2 separate regions of the Homo sapiens genome follow, and region 2 is linked to region 1. Evidence: fine-mapped expression QTL. Tissue or cell type: whole blood. Region 1 holds a variant in brackets; the other region holds the start of a gene. All regions are shown on one strand. Distances are from middle to middle.

Evidence for each region. PIP is the estimated chance that this variant, and not a neighbour inherited with it, causes the effect.
Region 2: NEURL1 starts here. The variant in region 1 is fine-mapped to the expression of NEURL1 in whole blood (TOPMed, PIP above 0.99). The same link has a PIP of 0.9 or more in monocytes.

The regions. Positions count from the first base shown.
Region 1 is chr10:103,547,103-103,555,202 of GRCh38, forward strand. The region is part of intron 1 of NEURL1 (neuralized E3 ubiquitin protein ligase 1); the gene reads left to right. Among named protein-coding and RNA genes, the nearest start is that of NEURL1-AS1, 34 kb to the left of the region's middle. The variant A/G (reference allele first, on the strand shown) is at 4,734.
Region 2 is chr10:103,488,830-103,496,929 of GRCh38, forward strand. NEURL1 (neuralized E3 ubiquitin protein ligase 1) reads left to right here and starts at 4,876. Exons shown (of 6, transcript NM_004210.5): 1 at 4,876-5,643. The coding sequence starts at 5,559. It overlaps NEURL1-AS1 (NEURL1 antisense RNA 1), which reads right to left. Exons shown (of 4, transcript NR_120675.1): 3 at 5,732-5,906. RefSeq lists silencers at 1,786-1,855, 5,085-5,234, 5,245-5,374, 5,455-5,554 and an enhancer at 5,221-5,770.

The sequences.
Region 1 (8,100 bases):
CCGTAGGAGCTAGGCACTATTACTATCAACCCAATTTTTCAGAAGAGGAAATGGACACTTAGTAGATGTTAGAACCAAGGTTTGAACCCGGGAAGTTTGACTCTGGAGCCTACTCTTAATTGCCACCTCTACTGTGAAGCCCCTAGTGTAGACAACACTGGTGGCACTGAGTAGTATTTGCTGTGTCACAGCACTGGGATCCAGCTGCCAGTGGCCATACTGGGAGTACCCCAGCCAAGGGCCTGAGCCCCTGTGGGGTCCTGTACTGTCACTTTGTTGTAGCTACTGACACCCAGTATCTGAGCCCAAAGGTTGGAGTCAGAGGCCCCAGGAGGGGTAGCAGGCAGGGGCAGGGCCAGGGCATGGGAGCAGAAGTGGAGGCCAAGTCAGCTGGTCCTGGGCTTGGCCATCCCTCTGTAAGCTGGACCTGGGAGAGGCAGGAAGCAGGCAAGAGCCAGAGGAAGCAGAATCCCCAGAGGAAGGAGGGGGGCCTCCCAGCTTTGGGGTGGCTTCAGCTAGCTGGGGGCCTGACACAAGAAGGAGTGGGCACCAGGAGCGTAGGCTGAGCCGTGGGGCTAAAGTTGTATATGTGAATGTGAGTGTGAGTGTGTGCGTGGGGTGGAGGTGAAGGGAGGGATGGATTGAGGAGGATCTCTGCCTGTGGAGGAGGGATTTAACCTCCTGTTATCAGCTGCCAGCTTTTCTCATAATCCAGGCAGGCCCATCAGGGATCAGCAGAGTGTGTTTCCGCATCTCGGATGGACGAGGCCCATGTCTTGTTCCAGCACATCCCGCGCTCATCCTGTCTCCTGCGACACCCTGGGTCTCCTCATTTCTCTGCGTCTCTTCTCCCCATAAAGTCTCGTTGCCTGCCCTTCCTCACCCTCCCCATCCAGGTTCTGGTGTAGGGAGCAAATCTTATGTATTCAGACCCTGCTAATTTATCACTTGTGATTGCTGGGACAAAGGCTAGCTTCCAGTTTAAAATTCATTCTATTCCTGAACAAAAATGCAGCACTAACCAGGTGATAAGGGACTGTTTAATCTACTTCCTTAGAAGAACTGACTGCTACCCAGTGCTCTGAAATGGCATTTGCATGTGAGGCACCCATGCAATCATACATGCAAAGCTTAGAATGTGCCTGATGCAGAGTAAGCGGGTACCGAGTAAATGTTTCTTATTAAAGCAGGTCTTCTATTTCTCCTCCTTGGGGTAATATGTATTTTTCTTTTTTTTTGAGATAGTTTTCACTCTTGTCACCCAGGCTGGAGTGCAATGGCACAATCTCGGCTCACTGCAACCTCCACCTCCCGGGTTCAATTGATTCTCCTGCCTCGGCCTCCCGAGCAGCTGGGATTACAGGGGTGTGCCACCACGCCTGGCTAATTTTTGTATTTTTAGTAGAGACAGGGTTTCATCATGTTGGCCAGGATGGTCTCGAACTCCTGACCTCAGGTGATCTGCCCGCCTCGGCCTCCCAAAGTGCTGGGATTACAGGTGTGAGCCACCACGCCTGGCTGTATTCTTAGTGCTATATGCATATCCTGCATCCCAAGTCACTCTTCTCCAAGGCTGGGACAGAGACTTTAGTCCTTCCAGTTCTACGTGGATTCCCGAGTTCTCTGACTCTCAAGCGTTGCTGTTATGGATGGAGCCAGGCAGCGGCCGTCACAGGTGTTATGTTATTCAGTTCTCACAAGTTTCTGGGCCATGTGATCTCCACCATGGAGAAGAGATGGTGGAGCCTCAGAGAAGCTCAGTAGCTTGCCTGTCCAACCTGAAGACCAGAGCTCCCACCCTCCATGTGGGTGGGGTGGGCACATCCATCCACCCTTCCTGACCTGTGACACAGATCTTATCATAGGCAAATGTTTGCCTCCAGCTAGGGACTCAGTGGGTGTGGGCTTTGTCTGGCACACTCTGTCCTGGGAATAGAAACCTGGTTTCTTCCTTGTTCCATCCTTTCTGCCTGGCATGGATGGTGATCCTTCTGTCCAGTCTACGCTGGCCATGCTGGCCCTGAGGCCTGGAACTGGGGAGCACGAGCAGGTGTGTTTGTGTCTTGGAGAGGCCGAGAAAGGGCTGCTTGGCAGTGGGCCTTGGCAGGGAGGGACCTCAACTCCATCCAGGTTCTGTTTGCTCAGATTCCCTTTCAGTCTCCACCCCTCCTCTGCACCTGTTGTGTTCCCATCCTCCTGGGCGGCTGGCAGCTGTCACGGCTGGGGCACCTGTCCCAACCCCCGAGGACGCCCTCTGGGCTCCCTGGCTCCAGTTTCTCTGCAGCACTTGGCTTGCACTCTCCATCTCTGAGTACTTTTGCTCTCCTCTCCCTCCTCATCTCTCACTCTTCCAGACTCGAGGCAGCAGCCTCCACTCTTGTCCTGGCTCTGGGCATAGAAGGAAGCTTTCAGCTGGGGTTCCCTGCTTCCTATTCTCTACTGCCAGGCCCAGCCTAATGAGTAGAGAGGATGGGGCCCTGGCAGGATGGCCATAAGCCTCAAATGCTGATGAGGCGGCTCATCAACTCAATCAAATTATCCCTTGTTCTTGATGAAGGAAACACTATAGCAGCAAGGGGCTGCCTCCCAGCTCCTCCACAGCAGGGTCACCTCCTCTTCCTGGCCTCCCCAGACCCTAGTCACTTCCCCCTACTTCATAAAAAGAAGTTACCCCCTCCCTTGTCCAGTGTTGTCTTCTATACCTCCTGATGCCTGGATTTATATGTCATATTAGGCATAGCAGCAGAAGACATTACTCCTGGGTCCCAGTCCTCCTTGCCTTCCACCCACTGTGTGGCCTTGGCAAAGTCTCTATCATTTATTGGGCCTTCTTTGCTACACCTGTAAAATGGGCCCAGAACTTCTTTGCCTGCTTGAAGGTAGGGGCTGGCCCCAGTGCTCTCTGGAGGCTCTTCCCCATTAGAGAGCTTGGTGACTGTGACTGTGATGGTTTCTATTCCCCAGTGAATTTGTTCCATGTTTTATTCTGGAGTTGCTGGCTCTGCCTTAGACTTTGAGTTCTGAGAGGGCAGGTTTAGGCTGGGAATGAGGTGCTAGGCCTTGGGGAACCTGGATGAGAGAGGACTTGGTGAGGAAAGCCTTGAGCTAGGTAGACCATCATGGAAACCAAGATGGCACCCAAGGGAAGAGGAGCTGTCTGAAAGGGGTCAGGGGACAGGAGATGGCAGGGAAAAGAGGGACAGCTATAGTAGTGGGGAGGGCCTTGGGAGCTGAATGGGTTCAGAGAGCCAAGGGGCCTAAGGTTCCCTAGATGGCATGAGAGGACAGATGCAGCTGGGGATTCTGTCAGACCAGGCCCCCAGGGGCACTGCCAGCCCTGCTTCCTGCCTGCAGGCTTTGAGGTATTAAGTCCCCACCCAGGTCATATATGGGTCTGTGTTCTTCACAATTTCCAGGATGACATCTCCAGTGTCTGTCTGGGTCACCTGTTAGCGGATGAGAAGTCCAGCCTTACTGCCTGTTCTCCACCTGCATTTAGGCTTCATCCCTGGAATGTCACCTTCTGTCTTCTGGAAAACGTCTAGGCTCTGCTGCCATACAGAACCCTTCTGCTTCCTTAAGGAGACGGTCCACTGTCCCCTTGTCTTCTCTCCTCTAAGCAAGAGGGGCCCCTGCCCGTTGCCCTTTCCTGGATGGAGCATGAGTTTTGATGTCAGGCAGGTCTGGGTTTGAAGCCTCGTTTGTCTTGCCTTCAGAATAACCTCTCTAAGCCTCAGTTTTATAGCCCGAAAATGGGGGTGATTATAACTCCTGAAGGGAAGTTTTGGGATTGGCTGATACATAAGATACTTAGCACAGTGCCTGGCACACAGTAAGCGATCAATAAATGGTAGCATTTATAGCTTCTGCTATATATTTACTTATAGCCTCTCCATTCCCCTTTCACATCGTTTCCAAAGTGCGGCTATAGAATGGAACACAGATCATTTAGCCAGAGCTGAAAGAACCTGATTCCTCAATCCCTGCCTGGCTTCTGCTGGGATCTGGAACTGCCTGTTACCCCGTCCATGCCCGTTTTACACCCCTGGCTTCTGCAGGGTGGGCATTGGGTCCTGCTCACCAGTTGGTGTATAGTGGGCACTCAGTGAATGGTTGATGAATGAATAAGTGAATGAATGATGTATGTTAGTGATTTTCTCACCCTTTTAGTAACAGAATCCTTTGGTCAAATGAATTTTTTTTTTTTTTTTTTTTTTTGAGATGGAGTCTCGCTCTGTCGCCCAGGCTGGACTGCAGTGGCACAATCTTGGCTCACTGCAACCTCCACCTCCTGGGTTCACACGATTCTCCTGCCTCAGCCTCCCCAGTAGCTGGGATTACAGGCGTGTGCCACCACGCCTGGCTAACTTTTTATATTTTTGGTAGAGATGGGGTTTCACCATGTTGGCAAGGCTGGTCTTGAACTCCTGACCTCAAGTGATCCACCCGTCTCAGCCTCCCAAAGTGCTGGGATTACAGGTGTAAGCCACTGTGCCCGGCCCCAAATGAAATTTTATGGGATGCCCCAGTGAATAAAACAGAGAAGGGGTGCAGCTCTTCTGCCATATCCCGGGGCTGCCTCTCCCTCTAGAGGTCCTGGACACTGCCTGAGGAAGTGACAGGAGAGGGAAGCCTCAGACACAGGACATTGATTGCCACATCCTATTTGGGGAAGTGATTGTGGGAAACAGGCTCATACGTCTGTGGGAAAACCCTTTTAGACTGCAGTGTCA[A/G]AGGCCTGGGGGCCACTCGGGCCACCTCCCAGTTCTCTGTTCTGTTTCACTCAAGTGGCCAGAGTTGGGGCTGCTGCTCATCTGAAGGACTTCCAGCTCGTGGAGCCCCAAACCTGCCCCATCCCTGCTTGCTTACCACTTGGCTGCTTTCCCACAGTCCTGTGTCTGAAAATTACATGATTTCAGGTCTGTTTGTGAGATGTTTTCTGAGTGCCTGCTCCGGGCAGGGGCAGGAGTGATGTGAAGCCCGAGGGGAGTGAGGCTAAGTCAGGCAAGGCTCACCCTGTGGGGTGCAGGATGCGGGATGTTGCTGCTGCTGCTCCCTCCCCTTGAGCCTCCTGCCTCCTCCCTCACCCTTCACAACCAGATAGGACAGTGACTTTCTGAAATGTGGGTCTGGTCTGTTGCCTCCCTGCTGCAGGACTTCCCTATTGCTCTCAGGAAGAAGGCCAGAGTCTTCGCCCTTCTCCTCAAGACCCTCCTGGTGTATCCCTGACCCATCCTGGCTCGGCAATGGAGCGTTTCCTGAGGCTCCTCCTGCTCACCCTGCTCCATACCAACCTTGCTTCTGGAACACACCAGCTCTCTCCAGCCACAGGGCCTTTGCCTATGTTGTACTCACTCTCTCCCCTAAGCCACCTCCACAGCACAGGGCCATTAGCCTTCAGATCTTGCCTTCACTGTTGCTTTTCAGGAAAGCCTGTCCTGAGCCTCCCAGAACCTTGCTCCTTTCTTTCAGACCCTTTTTCTCAGGTTGTGATGATATACTCCTTAGTGAGACTACTGGATAAATGTCTGTTTCCTTCTGGACTGGAAGTCCGCGAGAGCTAGGACCTGCCACTGAGGGCCACCCTTGCATCCTTAGTGTCTGACACATAGTAGGGGATCAATAAATGTGGGTAGAGTTGAATTAAATGGTTGAGGTGCACCCAGGAGAAGCTGGGGCAAGCAGATAGGGCCCCAGCCAGGCCATGGCTCTCTCTGTATAGGACCGAGTAGGGTAAGTGTTAGGAGATGCCCAGCTCAGGAGCTCAGAGGAAATATAAGTGCCAAGAACAGGGACTTACTCTTACCTAGGGCCCTAGGGAGGCTTCCCAGAAGAAGTGTTCCCAGTGCTGGGTGATGGGAAGGGGGCATTCCAAGTGAGGAGAAGGCAGGAACCAAGGTGAGAGGGAGGCTGATGTCTGGGTGTGGGGCCATAGGAAGGCCAGGCTGGCATGTGCGAGGGATTGGTGGGCAAGGGGCCAGCTGAGTGTGTTAAAAGGCAGGCAGGGTGTGGAGGGTGACTCTGCTGCTACAGGAACAGCCTCCAAAGCATCTTCTTTTGGCCTCAATTTCCTCATCTGTAAAATGGGCATACACATACACTGATCTCTTAGGGTTGTCGTGAGGATTGAGCAAGTTAAATGCGTCACACGCTCAGGGCAGTGTGGATCATGCAGTAAGACCTCGTGTTTGCTGTTATTATGATCATTATCCGACAAAAGGAGTTTGGCTTACTTTCTCCTTGTCAGACTGACTTAGCTTCCCGCCCCCATGGGAACTGGGTATGTGTGCCAGGAAGTGTGTGCGTGTGTGTACGTGTGACTGCACAGCTATGAGCCGGTATGTGCCTGTGGAAAGTGGGCTGCCTTGTGCGGACTCGGGTGTCGTGGCTTCTCCCGGAAGTCGTGGGCATGCCTCTGGCTCAGGGGAGCATCGGCCGACTGGGCTTGCTCTCCCCCAGATCCCGCCCAGCCCTCTGCTGATGACTCTAGGTCAGGCCTGAATGTCCCTCCTAACCGCTTCCCCAGACCCACTCAGAAGTGGGAGCAGCAGGGTCTTGAGCTGCGGGCTCAGGACCCAGTCCAGTCCCTTACAGGGCCCAGGCCTCTGAGTTCCATCTGCTGTGGGACAGCCTCCACCTTTCCCGTGGCCCCTTCCTCAGCCCCTACCCCTCTGTCCTCCCACCTGCCCGCTGGCTTTCTCTTCCCACCCAGCCCTTTCCCTGGGGTCCAAGATCCCAGACCTTGAGGACAGGGGCTGGTGTCCAGGCCAGGGCCAGGGAGGATGGTGCTGTCCTGTTGTCCTGGTAGAGGCCCCTGAGCTTGTGTTGGATGGTGACATTGTCCCTCAGACATGGCCTGAGTCCTGGTCCTGCCTGTGACCTGCTGGGTAACCTCACGCAAGCTCCTTAGCCTCTCAGAACCTCCACTTTCTTCTCTGTAAAACAGATATCATCATAGCCACTGCCACCCACACAGTTCCTGGTGCACGGTGCATGCTCATTGCATGGCAGCTGCTCTCTTGATGATGATCTGGGCTCCCGGCATGCCTGCCCAGGGCTGGAGGGGCCTGCCATCCCAGCCTCCCTCTTCCCCCTCTGTTCCCACCTTTCCCTCTTCCCTGAGTGTGGGGTGCCAGTGTCCACCTTAAGATTTCTCTAGAAACTTTGCGAGTCTGTGGAAGCAGGCGTATGTTGACTGTGGACATTGAGAGGTGTGCATGTAACCATGTGAGTACATGTCTGGTGGTCAGTAGATGGCTGAGTGCGCTCAGTGGTGAATGCTCCCAAGTGCTTATGAGCCCATGTATATGCACATTTGTGTGACATGATGCAGAAGAATAGTGCAGGTCTGTGTTGGGGTGTGTGGTGTGTGTGTATGTGCATGGTTAAAGGGATAGGTTGGTGTGGGGGGGAAAAGCCTGGATTCTGGTGCTGCACTGCCTGGGTTTGCATTCCAGCCTTGCCACCTTTTAGGTGAGCAGCCTCTCTTTGTCTCAGTTTTCTCATCTGTAAGACCATCATCATCATCTTAGAGATGGTACCTGTTGATCTGTTGATAATGACTGTAATACTGACCTCATCATTCAGCCTGTGAGGACCAAAGGAGTTAATACTTGCAAAGCCCTTGGAACAGAGCCTGGAAGAAGACAGAAACGGTGTTAGCACTTGGTTAACAGCTCCATCAGCTTGATTGTGAACCTCTTGAGGGCAGGGACGATGTCTGTTTTGCTTCCCAGGGGGTCCCCTCTCACCTAGCAGGACCTCTGCATGTAGTAGGTGCATGAGGCTAGTGAATGAATGGCTGTCGGCCTGGGCGTTCAGGGAGGGCTGTGTGTGTCACTACATCCCTGAGATGGGGCTGTGTGTGATGGGGATGTGTGTGCGTGTGCGCGCCTCTGCTCGCTTTCTGGAGCTCGCTGCTATTTCAGGAAGCCTCCAGTCTCCTCCTCCTTATGTAAATAAACATGACAGATCCCATCGGCTGTACCAGCGCGGGAGGTGGGGAGGCTGGAGTGGGTGGGAGCGGGGAGGCGGCGGCCGGAGGGGTGTGCGTGCTGCGTGCGCGTGTGGCCGGCTGGCCGCGGGCGGGCGGCGTGCGCG
Region 2 (8,100 bases), 58 kb before region 1:
CCCCCGACAGCTTTTCTGATAGTCTGATTAACTATGGGCTGGTGGCTGGGTGGACATGGTGGCACATGCCTATAATCCCAGAGCTTTGGGTGGCCTAGTCGGGACCTGAAGCCAGGAGTTCAAGACCAGCCTGAGCAACAAACTGAGCTCTCATCTCTTACAAAACACAAATAAATAAAAAATTAGTCAGGTGTGGTGGCGCATGCCTGTAGTCCCAGCTACTCGAGATTGAGGTGGGAGCATCGTTTGAGCCCAGGAGGTCGAGGTTGCAGTGAGCTATGATCACGCCTCTGCATTCCAGCCTGGTGACAGAGTGAGACCCTCAGCTCTAAATACCAAAACCAGGCGGAGTGCAGTGGCTCACGCCTGTAATCCCAGCACTTTGGGAGGCCAAGGTGGGCAGATCAATTGAGGTCAGGAGTTCAAGACCAGCCTGGCCAACATGGCAAAATCCTGTCTCTTCTAAAAATACAAAAATTAGCTGACCGTGATGGCACGCACCTGCAATCCCAGCTACTCAGGAGGCTGAGGCACGAGAATTGCTTGAACCCAGGAGGAGAGGTTGCAGTGAGCTGAGATCATGCCACTGCACTCCAGCCTGGGTGATAGAGTTAGACTCTGTCTCAAACAAACAAACAAATAAACAAAACCCAAACAAAATGAAACAATGGGCTGGGACTTGGGGAATGGGAGGGTGCTACCTGTGGTAGCCAGGGATAGTTGTGGCTGTTTCCCATTTTAAGGTTAATTTCTCTGCCTGGAGGGAGGTGTCATGCCATTGACTAGGGTGGTCTCAATTCAGGGGAGTCCAGCTTGGCCTAGAGGCGCCCCACTTTTGTCTGCCTGAGGAAAGGTCATCACTCTGGTTGGTTCTGAACTCAGTATCCAGAGGCTCAGGGAAGGGAGTAGACTCTCAGTTAAATATGCTATTATTTTATCAACGCGGTAACTCTTCAAGACTTGAATGGATCTGGAAGCTATGGAGAGAGAGAAAGAGGAAGGGAGGTAGAGAGAGGCGAACCAGGCAGGAGCGGACAGCCAGGGTGGGAAGAACAGAGGTTGCAAGGAGAGAAAGTGACCAGGGTGGGAAGAAGCAGAGAAGGAAGGGCAGGGGGAAAGACGAGAGGGGGTGGGAAGGGGGTAGAGAGTGAAAGAAACCAGCAAGGGCCAGGTGCGGTGGCTCACTCCTGTAATCCCAGCACTTTGGGAGGCTGAGGCGGGCGGATCACTTGAGGTCAGGAGTTAGGGACCAACCTGGCCAACACGGTGAAACCCCATCTCAATTAAAAATACAAAAATTGGCTGGGCACGGTGGCTCATGCCTGTAATCCCAGCACTTTGGGAGGCCGAGGCGGGTGGATCACGAGGTAAGGAGATTGAGACCATCCTGGCTAACACGGTGAAACCCCATCTCCACCAAATATGCAAAAAATTAGCCGGGCGTAGTGGCAGGCACCTGTATTCCCAGCTACTCAGGAGGCTGAGGCAGGAGAATGGCGTGAACCCAGGGGGCGGAGTTTGCAGTGAGCTGAGATCGCGCCACTGCACTCCAGCCTGGGTGACACAGCGAGACTCCGTCTCAAAAAAAAAAAAAAAAAAAGAAGGAAAAAAAATTAGCTGGACATGATGGTGTGTGCCTGTAGTCCCAGCTACTCGGGAAGCTGAGGTTGGAGAATTGCTTGAACCTGGAAGGTGGAGGTTGCAAGATTGCAGTGAGCTGAGATCGTGCCACTGTGCTCCCACTGGGCAAGACTCTGTATAAAAAAAAAAAAAAGAGAAATCAGCAAGAAGAGAGCAACAGGGAAGGAAGGGAAGGTGGGAGTGGAGCTGCTGTTGAAGGAAGCTTCCTCAGGTCCCTGCCTGGGGCCTCCCTCTCCTGCATGCCTGTGTGTGCACTCACAACACCTACGCATGCACATACAAGGACACAGGTGTTCGCGAAAGTGCACACGTGTGCACTGACACCCACCCCCTCAGGCACTGCCCGCAGAATCTGCACTGCTGGGTGTGTGGGTGTTGCCACGGTGACTGGTGCTGGAGCATCACCTTGTGGGTATTAATAGCTTCCCCTGAAGCCATCAAAACAGTGACTTCATCAGCCCCAGTCTCCCTGGCAGTTTCCTTCTTCCTCTTCCCTTCCAGGATGGGTCTGGGAAGGGTCTTCTGGATCAGAGCCACCACCCAGGCACCCCACCCCTATGAGCTGCCTTGGGGAAGGATGGCAGGAAGGCCTCTGAGTTCTGCCCAAGGTCTGGGGGTAAGGAGACTGCTGGCCTTCTTTAACCCTCTGAGCTGGGTCTACCCTAAGTCCCTGCCAGGGAGGAGTTGCTGGGGCACAGGACTCCTCAGAAGGGCCACGCTCAACTTCTCTGAGTCCTATGCAGCCACACCAACCTCCTCTAGGTCCCTTCCTGGCCAGAGACCTAGTTGACTCTAACAGTGGTGTCCCCTCTTCCAGTACAGAGCTCCCTGAAGTACTAGGGTGAAGGTAGAGAGGGGCCTAGGGCGTGAAATATAAGAGGACCTAATTCCCAGGCTCGCGCAAGTGCAAGCTTGGTATCTGCATGAACTTGAGAGTTGGCGCCTTCTTCAATTTTGCGCCAGGGATGCCTTGGCTACCTCATCCTATCCCAGCCCTATTGATACTCCCATCAGCTCCTCAACCCTCAGTTCCCTGCCTTTGTCCCTGACGCCTCTCACCTTCCTTTGGGACTCCCTGGGATCACGCTGCCCTGAACTGCAGAACCTGGGCTGCCTCTGGACTCAGGTGAGCATCCGCCTCTGGCCTTCACTTCCCTCCTTCCCTTTGACGTCTTCCTCTCTCCCCTGCTTTGCCCATAGCCCCAGGTCTAGGCCATGTGGGGCCTGTGACATCCCTTTGTCAGGCGCGGTGGCTCATGCCTGTAATCCCAGTACTTTGGGAGTCCGAGGCAGGTGGATCACCTGAGGTCAGCAGTTCAAGACATCCCTGCTGTGCTCTACCTTTGGGGCCTCATCCCCTCCCCCATTCCCCTGCCCACACCAGGCTTCCCTGGAGCCACCGTCTGTAAATCCTAGCTAGGCCCTTGTACTTCAAACACACTCTAGCAGGATGAGTCTCAACTATGCAGAGTCCTCATATTTGTTCTAACTTGTGAAAGGCCTGATTCTAGTGGCCACTCACAGTGACTTCATTCCGGCAGATTTCAGGGGGAATATAAGTGTGTGTGCTTGTATAGGTGTGAGTGTGTGAGATAGTGTAGCGGTGTGTTAGCACATGTGTGAGTGTGTTGCCATTAAGAGCCTGTGGATTTCTGATGCATGAGTCATTAGCTGGGAGTGAGCCTTGGGAAGATACTGCCCATAAATAAGACAGCCATCCCTGACCTGCTGTGGCCATCTGCAGCTGCCTGCACACGTGATCCTGGGCATCTGGGAGGCTGGAGGCCGGGTTCGGGGCTGCCTTTCCCTCCAGATTCCAGAGAGACAGTGGCTGTCACAGATATTTCTAGCTTGCCTGGAGTCCCAGACATTTAAGGGTAGAATGCCTGGAATGGGGATGGAGAGAGGAGAGTAGGAGAGGAAAATAAAGGGTGGTTCAGGAGGCTCTGCCCCCAGGGATCTCAGTGGAGCCTCCTGGCCCACAGTGGGAAGCATGCATTCCACAATTATTTTCTGAGAATCTGTCACATGCCAGGCATTCCCCCAGTGGGTAAGGACACCCTGGTGAACACGACTGACCTGTGCTCTCCCCTCACAGAGCTTATGTTCTAGCAGGGAGGCAGAAGATAAACGAGGAAAGGCTACTTGTAAACAAGTTCCATATAAAAGCTATGATGAAAATAAAATGGAATATTGTGGAAAGTGACTGACAGTGGAGGGGGTCCTTTAGTTGGGGCAGTCAGGGAATGTCAGGACACGAATTGTGCCTAGATAATGAGGAGCTGCCAAATGGAGACTTGGGGGAAGAACCTTTATTACAGAAAAGGATACATGAGATGTCCCCCTGCCCACCCATGTCTTCACTGGACTCTGGATCTGAGTTGCTGAAGCCAGAGCAGGGAGCTAGAGATGACTTAGAGGAGCAGGAAGTCTGATTCCCTGGGGGGAACCTTGGAACATCTTCCATCCCTGATAGACCAGGAGAGATGCCCCGGGTCCAGGAAGGAGAAGAATGACTTCTGTTTCCCTTCCTGAAGGCTTCTTGGTGCAGTGTTGAGCTACAGGAAGGCACTAGCCACATGAGCAGGGCCCTTGCTGAAACCCCCTTCCTCCAGGAAGCCTTCTTTGACTGCCATAGGCTGCAGAGGCTCCTCTCCCCCACCTTGTTATAGCTAACAGAACCACTCAGTTCAGAGCTGGTGGTCTTCTGATGATCTGTCCCGGAGATCTGTTCCCTCAGCTTGGCCAGAGCTCCAGGCTTGTGAGTCTGGTCCGCGGGCATTCAAAGGCCCTCAGTGGCATCTGTGCATCAGTGAGACTGCCCGGGGTTCCTGCTCTGAACCCTTGCCCTAGTGCCCCTAGCCTGGCTGAGAACGGAGGGTCAAGTGCCGGGGTTCTAATCTCAATTACTTTATCCAAGCATCCGCTCGCTCATTTACATGTTTCCCTGGGCTCTCCACTCTGCGCCAGGCCCGGTACCTGGAGCTAGGGAAACCGAACATTAGTGCTGGCTCGCCCGCCCCCGCATCCGGGGAGCTCGGCGTTCTCGCGGCCCTGCTCCCCTTGTTTTCAAGTGCAAGTTCCATGTTTCCGTGCTGGGAATAAGGCCAGCCCCGGGTGCCACCATACTCGCCTGATGTCTTACCCCGACCCGCGCCGCCGAGAGCTTGCGGCTACGGGAACGCGGCGCGCCCCGGGGCCACATCTGGCCTAGCGGGCGCGCGCGTGTCACTAAGACGCTCATTCACCGGCGCAGCTGTCACCATAACAACCGGAGCGAGGGAATCCTGGAGACTGCCGGGGCGGGGGGCGGGGGCGGCGGTCGCAGGAGGGACCCGGCGCGGGCGGGACCGCGGCGGTCGGGGGACACCAGCTGCGTCGGAGCGCCCAGAACGCCCCGCGCTCCGCCGAGCCCCGCTCCACGCAGACCCGCGGGCGGGAGGGAGCCACGCACATCGCCGCCGCGGCCGTCTCCGCGGGGCGGTAACCGAGCCTGCCTCGGAGCCGCCGAACGCCCACGCCAGCGACCCTGACTCTATGGCCCCGGGGGAGCGCGCCGGAGCCGCCGCGCCGCCCACCCCCAGCCGGAACCCTAGCGTCCCGGGGAGCAAGCGGGGAGCCCCGGGCGTCCCCGGCCCCGGCCCAGGGCCCTGCTTGTGGCCCCCGCTCCCGCCACGGGGCATGGGAGGCAGGTAGCCCAGCCTGCGCCAGGACACCCGTGGCGGGCGGAACCCGCCAAGGACCGCGAAGTCCAGAGAAAGGAAGCTGAGGAGCTGCCCGCCCGCCCCCGGCTGCAGCCCCAGCAGGGCCCTCCCCCGGTGGCGCGCACCCGCGCGCGCACACTCGCACACCGCACCTCAGCGCCTGCCCGGCCTCGCCCCCACCCGCGAGCGCCGAACCTCCTGGGGCCGGATGCCATGGGTAACAACTTCTCCAGTATCCCCTCGCTGCCCCGAGGAAACCCGAGCCGCGCGCCGCGGGGCCACCCCCAGAACCTCAAAGGTAGGCTCCCCGGCCGAGCGCTGCTGGAGGACTGGGGCGCAGGTGGAGGGCCAGGGAGGTGTGGTTGGGGAGGGCGGGCAGACGCCACCTGTTGTGCGTGTCTGGAGGCCGGAGATGCACCTCTGGCCGTGGAGTGGGCTGGGGGTGGAGGGCAGCCGGCGATGATGGTGATGGAGGATGGCGTCCCGCGGGGTCTGCGCAGTTCTGTCTGCTGGCACTGGGAACGTCACTGGAGTCCCCTCAGGCCATGGTCTTAGGCGAGCCTGAAGAGATGGGAAAGGATGTTTGCCAGGTCGATAGGGGAGTGGGGAGTGAGGAGGGAAGCTTGGGTCGTCCGTGTCTCCAGGGAGGCACCTCGATGGGTCTCCTTTCCATCGGCCCTAGGGCTGGAGAGACCAGGCTGGGAGCACTAGTTGCATTTCCAATGGGAGGGTTTTAAAAATTCAGGACAGGATTACAGCAGCCTGGAAGAAAGGGTCAGAGCTGCTGGTTCCTGGGGTCCTTTGCAGCCGTTGGGTTTTTGCATCCATTGAATTAGTTTGATTTCTGGTTTTCCCAAAGACCAGATATCCAGTCAGAGCCCTAGAAAAGAGGGTCTGGGAGCCTTGAAACAGAGGGACATTTACTAGGAATGTCTTTGCTCTTCACCTCCCCAGATCCACTCAGCACCCTCAGGGTGGCCCTAGGCCCAGTCTCCCCATTCGGAGCCTGCCATTCCTGTCTTGGATCTTCCAATGCTGTCTCTGACCTTTGGAAGACACTGCTGGGTCCTCCCGGGCCCTCAGACCCTACTAAATTCCTTCCGGAAGGTGCTTTTCTGTCACCTCAGAACCAGTGGCACTTGTCCTGGGCATGATGGCTAAAAGCCAGGAAGGGAAGCCCTTGGGCTTTCAGAAAGAATACCCCACTTCCTAAGCTCCTCAGGTTATGAGAAGGATAACAATAGTGCCCTTTAACACAAGGCATCGAACTTTCTCAAACACATTTTCAGTGAGCATGGACACTGCTTGGGGTAGTCAGCAGAGCAGAGCTAATCACACTATACCCATTTTACAGATGAGGAGAACCAAGGCTTGCTTCAGGTTCCCAAAGCCAGCCAGACCTCGGCGCTAGGTGCTAGGCTGTAGACCCCTATCTTTTGACTTGGAATTCTGTCCCTTCTTTTGCTGAACAGTTAACTTTTAAGACCAGGGAAGAGGAGGAGAGATAGGACCACTGTCCTGCATTCTAATACTCCAGCTCTTTCAGAACTTCAGCTTTCACTTGGCTCAGGAAAATCAGTGGATTTGTTGTGTCTTTCTGGAAATTAATATGGCAATACATGTCAAGATACTTTAAAAATATCAATTTGTTGGCAGGGTGCGGTGGCTCACGCCTGTAATCCGAGCACTTTGGGAGGCTGAGGCAGGTGGATCACTTGAGGTCAGGAGTTCCAGACCAGCCTGGCCAACATGGCGAAACACTGTCTCTACTAAAAATACAAAAATTAGCCGGGCATAGTGGTGCGTGCCTATGATCCCAGCTACTTGGGAGGCAGATAGGCAGGAGAATCCCTTGAATCTGGCAGATGGAAGTTGCAGTGAGCTGAGATCGTTCCACTGCACTCCAGCCTGAGCGACAGAGCGAGACTCTGTCTTGCTAAAAAAAAAAAAAAAATCAGTTTGTTGACCTTGTAATTCTACCTTGAGGAATTGATACTAAGGAAGTGGAGATGCAGGAATATATACTTATGGCACTAGGCTAGGATGTTCATGGCAGTGTTATTTATACTAGGTGGATAACCTAAATGCTCAGTAATCATGGTATATATTCTTGGTAGAGTACTATGCAGTGATTACAATTATATTTGTGAAGAATAGTTGATGACTGTGGAAAATGCTCACAGTATAACGACAGAATACAAAGTTGTGAAGACTGTATGATCCCAATTTTGTTTAAAAAGTGGTGTGAATGCAAAAAACCCCAACAAAAACAAAACAAGCAAAAATGCTTGTAAAGTTTCCAAAGGGTTAACAATTATTTCCTCTGGGTATAGGATCATATGGGATTGCATTTTTTCTTTTTTATATTTTGCTCTTTTCTAAAATTTCTATAATAAGGAAGTATTATTTTTGTAATCAGAAATAAGCTATCAGTGTTAGCAAGTATGAAGACTGTTTCTGAGCATTGGAAACAGATTCCTAATGAACCTATGAATATCGTTCAGCTCAACCTTCTCTGCAAGTGAGAATAATGAGGGAAAAGAATAATTATTTGCCCAAATTAAAGTGGCAAAACTTGGCCCTGTCCTTCAGGGGGCAAGGGTTAGCTGGGGGCAGGGGTTAGTTGGCCCTTAATATTCACAGACTATCTTCCTGAGAAGGTCTTGCTCCATCCTTGACTCTGTGGAAACCCAGAGAGCTCCCAACTAATTGCATCTTTTTAATCTAAAATTTGGAATTGTGGGGATCTGAGGTC